2 linked regions of the Homo sapiens genome follow. The protein of the gene in region 1 purifies or fractionates together with the protein of each later gene. This does not show direct contact. Each region holds a gene or a part of one and is shown in the gene's direction. Other genes may lie near its edges.

Region 1 (3,751 bases):
TTTTACATATGTCTATAGAACTGCATAACCAGATGGAGATATAGAACAGTTCCAGCATCCCCCAGAGTTTCTCTTATGCCCTTTCCTAGTTAATACCCCCATACAGAGGCAATCACTATTCTGATTCCAATCACCATAGGTTATTTTTGCCAGTTCTTTAATCTCATATAAATGGAATCATATAGCAAGTACTCCTTTGTATCTATCTTCTTATGCTTATCATTATCTCTGTGATATTCACCTGTATTAATACGTGTAACAGTGTGGTTTGTTCTTTTTAATTGTGTGTGGTGTTCCATTGTATGAATACACTTTGGTTTATTTATTCCTTCTAATACCGATGGACACTGGGTTGTTTTTAGTTTGGGGATGATGATAACCTGCTCTGGACATTCTTATTCATGTCTTTGGGGAAACATAAGTGTTTATTTTTCTTGGATATATGTCTGCGAGTGAAATTGCTGGGTTATAGGGGCCTATATTTACTAAATATTGTCAGTTTTCAAGGTGGTAGTCTGTATTAGGTAGATTGGTGAAAAAGTGAATGAACTAGAAGACCCTCCAAACCAGATGATCACCAGAGTCACAGGGGAGCTTTAAAAACATACAGATTCCTAGGCCCTGTCCTAAATCTACTGAATTCAGGGTTCTGAGGCATGAGTGGGGCACATAGTGATAACCATCCATCCCTGCCCCCTATACATTGCCCAGCATTGCCAGTCCTCATTCCAGCTTCCCTTCTGCAGTTCCCCCCTTCACCGGGTGAATTCGAGTCTTTGTCAATATGAAAAGAATATCAAGTTTCTAGAAAAGTTTACACTGGCATCACCGGGTAAAAGGGAGACTTCAAGGCAGTCCCAGAAACCAGAATTCTGGGGATTTGCACAGCTGAGCAGTTGTAGGTTTGCATTCAACCACCTTCAATATTGATCCCCATCCTCCCTCTCCTCCCATGCTTTCTGTCCTTACACACACACTGATATCCTCATACACAGTGGTTGCACTGATGTGTTCCTGGCTCTGTTTCCTGGCTTATGCTGTGTCCCACCCGCTCTCCAGAATGCTTTCTCCTTTCCTAAATACAGACTGTATTCCTCATCCCATGTGGCATTTGGGCTTGGAATGGGTATCAACAAACCTGCATTTTAGACATTTTCCTGCCATTACTACCCGTATGAGAAAGTGGGACTAAGTCACTTAACTCTCTGACCTTAGTTTAATCATCTATAAAATGATGGAGTCGAGCTAGGCAATGTCTATGGTCCCTTCAAGTTCTAAAATCTTGTGATTGTTTTTTCTATCTTCTTGTCTATCATTCAGAATCTGATTCAAATCTCCTCCTTAAAGCCCTAAGTTGAGCCATTCTAGCTCAAATTTCCTGACCCTCTTGAAATATCAGACTTATTATCTGAGACATGAATTATCTTGTGACACCTTTTATATTGCTGTTTGGAAGTGTTTTGTTTGTCTGTTTATTTTAGCCTCTCATATATTCATTGCTTTACATTTTTTAGGTAGATTATTAAGAATGTTGAAGGCAGAGATTTTCAATATATTCTTAAATCTTCCATAGTGCCCCTCAAGTTTTCTTGTGCCAAATGGGTGATCAATAAATATTGACTAATTAAAATTACGTTTAGTTAATGCATACAATTTTCCTCATTCTTATTCTTCATTCTATTTTGAGGATTAATCTGAAAGCATACTCTTAAAAATAATGTATTGGCCGGGCGCAGTGGCTCGCGCCTGTAATCCCAGCACTTTGGGTGGCCAAGGTGGGTGGATCACTTGAGGTCAGGAGTTTGAGACCAGCCTGGACAACATGGTGAAACCTCGTCTCTACTAAAAATACAAAAATTAGCCGGGTGTGGTGGCAGGAGCCTGTCATCCCAGTTACTTGGGAGGCTGAGGCAGGAGAATTGCTTGAACCCAGGAGGCGGAGGTTGCAGTGAGCCGACATTGTGCCACTGTACTCCAGCCTGAATGACAGAGCAAGACTCCATCCCAAAATAATAATAATAATAATAATAACAATAACGTATCACATAGTCACCTGCTCATCTGTTCTCTATTAAGCTCTCATTATCTGGGTAAATGAAAGAAAAACTATTTTTTGTGGGTCAGTAAGTAGATTCAGGGGATAAATAGATGGGTGGATGGATGGATAGATGGCTGGCTAGCTGATTGGGTGGGTTACATGTATGAGTGGACAGATGGATGGATAGATGGCTGGCTGGCTGATTGGGTGGGTTACATGTATGAGTGGACAGATGGGTGGATAGATGGATGAATGGTTGGATAGATGGAGATATTTTTTACATACTGGTCCTTCCTATTAGATGTCCACCTTTGTGCTAGGTGCCTCATTATTATGTAAATGAAATTTGAGACCTGAATTGGACCCTCAACAGAAAAAGGGTGAGCGTGGTTTGTGTTTTCTTTTCCAGTAAGTGTAAGGTTTAAAGCTGAATTTAATGTTGACAATATATGTAATGCCCAAGTTATATCAAGCCTGCTTCAGTGCCATTATTCAGTGTTATTTTTACTAGAATGGGGCTGGCAGAATGGATTCTAAGGACAGATGGATATGGCGGTTCCACTGTAACATGATTCTTCTTTGATTCTATGGAAAGACTGGTTATAAGTTTCTTTGTTATTTGGAATGTGGAAAGAAACAGGAAGGTGTTATATTTCTGCAAACTTCTTGAAGTACAGATTCTTTGAATTTTCTGCAAGGAATGTATGTGATAACATGGTTTGTAGCTTTCCCGACATCTAGAGTTGTATGGTCTAACTTGGTAGCCACTAACCACATGTGGCTATTTAAATTTGCATTTAATTTAAATGAAATGGAAAATTTCATTTCCTCATCACACCAGCCACACATCAAGTGCTCAGTAGCCACATGTGGCTAGTGGCTACTCTATTGGGCAGTGGAGACAGAGAACACTTCAGTCATTGCAGAGGGCTCTATTGGACAGTTTAGAAAAGAGTTTGCTATATGCTTTGGGGTCCAAATTTCTTCCCCAGGATACACGTTTGCTCCTCTCTCTCACAGAGGGTATCAGGAATTCCTCAGATAGGCAAATATCAAATGCCTCCCAGCTGCACAGGCTCTTTCTGTCTGTGAAATATCTTCTGTTGGAAGACACACACAAGTGAAGAGGGAAGAAATGAAGCAGCCCCATATCATCTGTAGTCACAGGCTTGGGGAATTTAGGCATCCCATTGATGAGGTTTTGAGGCTTTCCAAAGACATGAGGGGTCAGCTTTCCAGGTCTCCACTGTGAACTTGTGTCTGATCCTTTCATTCTTTCTTGTAGGTCCTCTTCCAGCTGCCAGTCTCTCTTTTATATCCCCCTGTCCCAAGACTTGCCAGAACAAACACTGCTCTAGCCAAACTCTTCTCACTGCCTCCCACATGTGCCACCAGACTTCTCCCCCTCTAACTTCATTTCCCCTTCTCTGATGGCTGGGCCCTATTCTTTCCATCTACCCAAATCCTATCAATCCTTCAAGGGATAGTTCAAGTCCTTTCTCTTCTATGAAGCATTCCCTGATCTTTGGCTTTCATTGATTTTTTTTCCCTTCCTAAGATGTTTCTGCCTGTATTGTTCATTAAATGCCAAATCTATCCTGTACTACTAGGTCTTTGTTAGAGATGTGTTTTATACTTCCTTAATCGTATGGGGTGGTTCATAGGGATCTGTGTCTTCTACAGTAGCCAGGCCCACTCTGCATTCAGTAAGAG
Region 2 (3,751 bases), on another chromosome or scaffold:
AAGGTAAACTGCTTGCCTTGATAGTCTCTTTCAGCACTCTGCACTCTACACACTCTTGAATGTCAGTTAGGTGCTGTTATGTGGGAATCTACCTGCTTACCTAATAGATATAGCCTGGACACAAAGTTCTCTGGTTTATGACACTCCCATTGTACAGCTGCCTCCATAGCTCCTTGAAATTCTGGATCAGGGATTGGACATCTGACAGGTAGTTTTGACTGCTTGGTATCACAGAGTTCAATCCAACAAAAGGAAGACATGTTCCCTTGTGTATAATGAATCTGCAGATCACTTATTCAAACTATAGTAGTCTGAACTCAGATGCTGGATGTCAGGTCCCCTCAGGATTGTCTTCCTGCGTCTTGACTGCAGCCACTCCTACACAGGGTGATTTCCTGGGCTGGAGCCAGTTTGCAGGACTATGAGACTATATAGACTACAAAGCCTAGCTAGGCCCCAGGTCGGCGGCAGAGTAAGCCCCACAGCAATGCGTTAAGCCTTCATGAAATGAGTGTTGAATGAATGAGGTAGTGATTCAGTGTATATTTGATCCACTGCAATAGGTGGGAAGGGGGCAGAGGCAGCTACTTCCTAAAATAACCCTTCTTCAGACTCTTAAAGAACTGATCCTTGTTTTGAATTAAAATCTATCTTCATTTAACTTCCAGTCCTTTGCCCTACAGATAATTCGTAGCGCCACATCAGTTCTACCCATTCTTTCACATGAAGACAGATGTCATGTTCTGAGTCATCTTTCTTCGCCTCCTTCCAGCAGCCCTTATCTGGTGGCTCACATTTGAGCGAGCTCCAATATGTCTCTGTAGAATCTCTCTCTTCTTTTTTCTTTTCTTTTTTTTTTTTTTTGAGATGGAGTTTCGCTCTTGTTGCCCAGGCTGGAGTGCAATGGCGCGATCTCGGCTCACCGCAACCTCCCCTCCCGGGTTCAAGCGATTCTCCTGCCTCAGCCTCCCTAGTAGTTGGGATTACAGGCATGCACCACCACGCCCGGCTAATTTTGTATTTTTAGTAGAGACAGGGTTTCTCCATGCTTGTCAGGCTGGTTTTGAACTTGCGACCTCAGGTGATCCGCCCGCCTTGGTCTCCCCAGGTGCTGGGATTACAGGCGTGAGCCGGCCCGGCCTGTAAAATCTCTTCAAAGTGTGGTACATGGAGTGCAGTACTCCACCTGTGGCCTGACTGATATGCAGTACAATATTATCACTAAATTGCTACAGACAGTGTGCTTTTCATTGTTGTCACAGAAATGTATTTGGTTAGTTATATTTGTTCATATCTCATCTGACTTTCCAGTCTTCCCTCACTTTGTACAGTCATATTTGCCGAGTCAAGTAAAAGTTATAACATTTAGGACACAATGCCCGACTTACTATAATTACCATTATTATCTTAGGATCATTACAAAACAGAATTACCACTTAGCTCTCAGGCCCTACCTCCTTCAGCCTCAGAAACGTTAACGCTACCTTGCATTGCTGCTTTTAGCACCGCCCCTAATAAGCCCCGCCCCTGGGGCCTCCGCGGCGGGAGCCTAGCGTCCGCCCCACCCACCCCGAGCCCGAGGCGGGGCTGTGGATGTAGACGCTGATTGGCTGACTGGGGCGCAGCTTGATGGCGTCGGGCTGGAGAGCCGCAGTCCCGGCTGCAGCACCTGGGAGAAGGCAGACCGTGTGAGGGGGCCTGTGGCCCCAGCGTGCTGTGGCCTCGGGGAGTGGGAAGTGGAGGCAGGAGCCTTCCTTACACTTCGCCATGAGTTTCCTCATCGACTCCAGCATCATGATTACCTCCCAGGTGAGTCACCGCCTCCCGCCCCGACACCCGTCCGCCTCCCTTTACCGAATCGCCCTCTCCGGTCCTCCGCGGTGCGGGCTGGTCCGGGGTCTCGCTCCTCTCTTACGCGTCCTGCGCTAGTCACTCTGGCACCCAGAGAGGGTGTGCGATTTGCTGCGGCCGGTTCCCTCAGCCCCGGCTGTCAGGAGACTGGCCTGCGGCCGTCCGCGTCCCCACCCGGCATCCATCCCCGGAATTTCGGTCCACTTTTGGAAGCGGTCCGCCGACCTCCAGGCTAAGAGCCGGCGCCGCCAGCTAAGGCGGCGGTTCTAGGAGCTCCTCGAAGCTTCCGGGCTGCGCCAACTGATCCTGGACTGGGGAAGCCTGTGTGGTTCTGGGCGCGCGGTGTGCGACGCGCCAATACTGGATACTGAGGACACGTCAGTGCAGGCTTTGCTGTTAGATGTCAAATCCTGAATCCGGGTGTGGAGAAATTTGCTGCTTCAAAGTATCAGTATAAGGTAATACCTGTGCTTGAAAGTATAAGGTTTCGTTTTTGCACTGACACCTCGTCCTTTATCCTCTGCTTAGTTACCCACCTTTTCCGGATGTTTTTCTGACCCTCATTTCTTCTCCATTGGCCACCTTCATTTGTTTGTACAGTCAACAAACATTTATCGACCATTATATAAAGCTCTGAGCGTAAAAACATGTAAGACACTGTCTCTGCTCAATAGAAGTTTCGTCTAGTTAGCCTCTTGCTTTTACCATGTAATCTATTGTTAATTATTGTTTCTTCCTAGCATTCATCATAGCACTGGCATCATTTATGTCTGTGTTTCTGATTTTGTTTTTTGAGATCCTGCCTTGTTCATAGCTGTATCCCCACTTCCAAGTGCAGGCATTCAATAAATAATTGTTGGCCAATATTTGTGAAGCTCAGACTGCCTGTTGACCTTCTTCCCCCCATCTTTCCAATAAAGATTTTGTGTGTGTGTGGTTGTTTTTACTTGTTCTTTCTCTCAAACGGCAAATAACAGAAGCAGTTACCTTTGGGGGCTTAAAGTGAACTAAATTTGTGTTCTTTGATTCCGTTTTTGTATTGCTTCATCCTAATACTCGTCTCCGTAGAGCGGAGCATTGTCCTTTTCTCTTCAAAAACTTGTTTACAATATTTAAGAAAATAAGAAAGAAGGAAAAGCCATCCATAATCCTACCACTCTAATGCAATAGTTTTTTCATTTTTAAAATTTACCACCTTTTCTATAGTTTTCATAAGTATTGTTTTTATTGGCTGCATAATATTCAAATGTATTAATGTAAAAAAACCTAGACATGTAACTCTTCTGCTTAAAACCTTTCTAAGACTACCCAGTGCCCTTGGTGACAACTCAGGGTTATTTTTAGCCTTAGTACCAATTTAAGAAAAATAACAATATTTAATTAGCTTTTCTTTTCATTTAGAATAAAGATAAGAATGTCAGTAGAAAATTGGCTTTGCATTGCAGCCTCTACGATTTTTAGCATGGATATAATTGATACGTTGAACCGAGGAAGTGGCTTTCTAATTTTGTATGCCTTATAATCATAGACTTTCACTTCACACATGCATCCACATGCAGTAATTAATTGTTAAACCTGGTTTTTACAAATGTGGAAGAAAGACCCAAAGATTCCTTTGCATGGAATGTTCTCTGTTCAGATATTTATGTGGCTACTTTATCATCCTTTCGGTATTAATAAAAATGTCGCTTTAGGAAGGTCTTACCTGACACCCTGCCCACAACCAAAGTAGCTTTCCATTTCGGCTGCCTTCTTCCTCATTTCCATGTTTTATTTTCTTCTTGGCATTTATTACTATGGTTCATTTGTATATTCATGTGTTTGTTATCTGTCCATGAGGTCCAAGATACTGTCTGTCTTGTTCTCTCCTGTATTCACCAGCATCTAGATCAGTTGCGGG

What was found.
Region 2: the proteins of GRPR (region 1) and GPR89A purify together in Homo sapiens (affinity purification with mass spectrometry, with the first as the bait; 2 studies listed by BioGRID). This does not show direct contact.

The regions. Positions count from the first base shown.
Region 1 is NC_000023.11:16,126,509-16,130,259, forward strand, and holds part of GRPR (gastrin-releasing peptide receptor), read left to right. Parts: intron 1-3,751. UniProt on the Homo sapiens protein: Receptor for gastrin-releasing peptide (GRP). Signals via association with G proteins that activate a phosphatidylinositol-calcium second messenger system, resulting in Akt phosphorylation. Contributes to the regulation of food intake.
Region 2 is NC_000001.11:145,606,367-145,610,117, forward strand, and holds the start of GPR89A (Golgi pH regulator A), read left to right. Parts: upstream 1-1,621; 5' UTR 1,622-1,767; coding exon 1,768-1,809; intron 1,810-2,251; exon of another isoform or gene 2,252-2,309; intron 2,310-3,751. UniProt on the Homo sapiens protein: Voltage-gated channel that enables the transfer of anions such as iodide, chloride, bromide and fluoride which may function in counter-ion conductance and participates in Golgi acidification.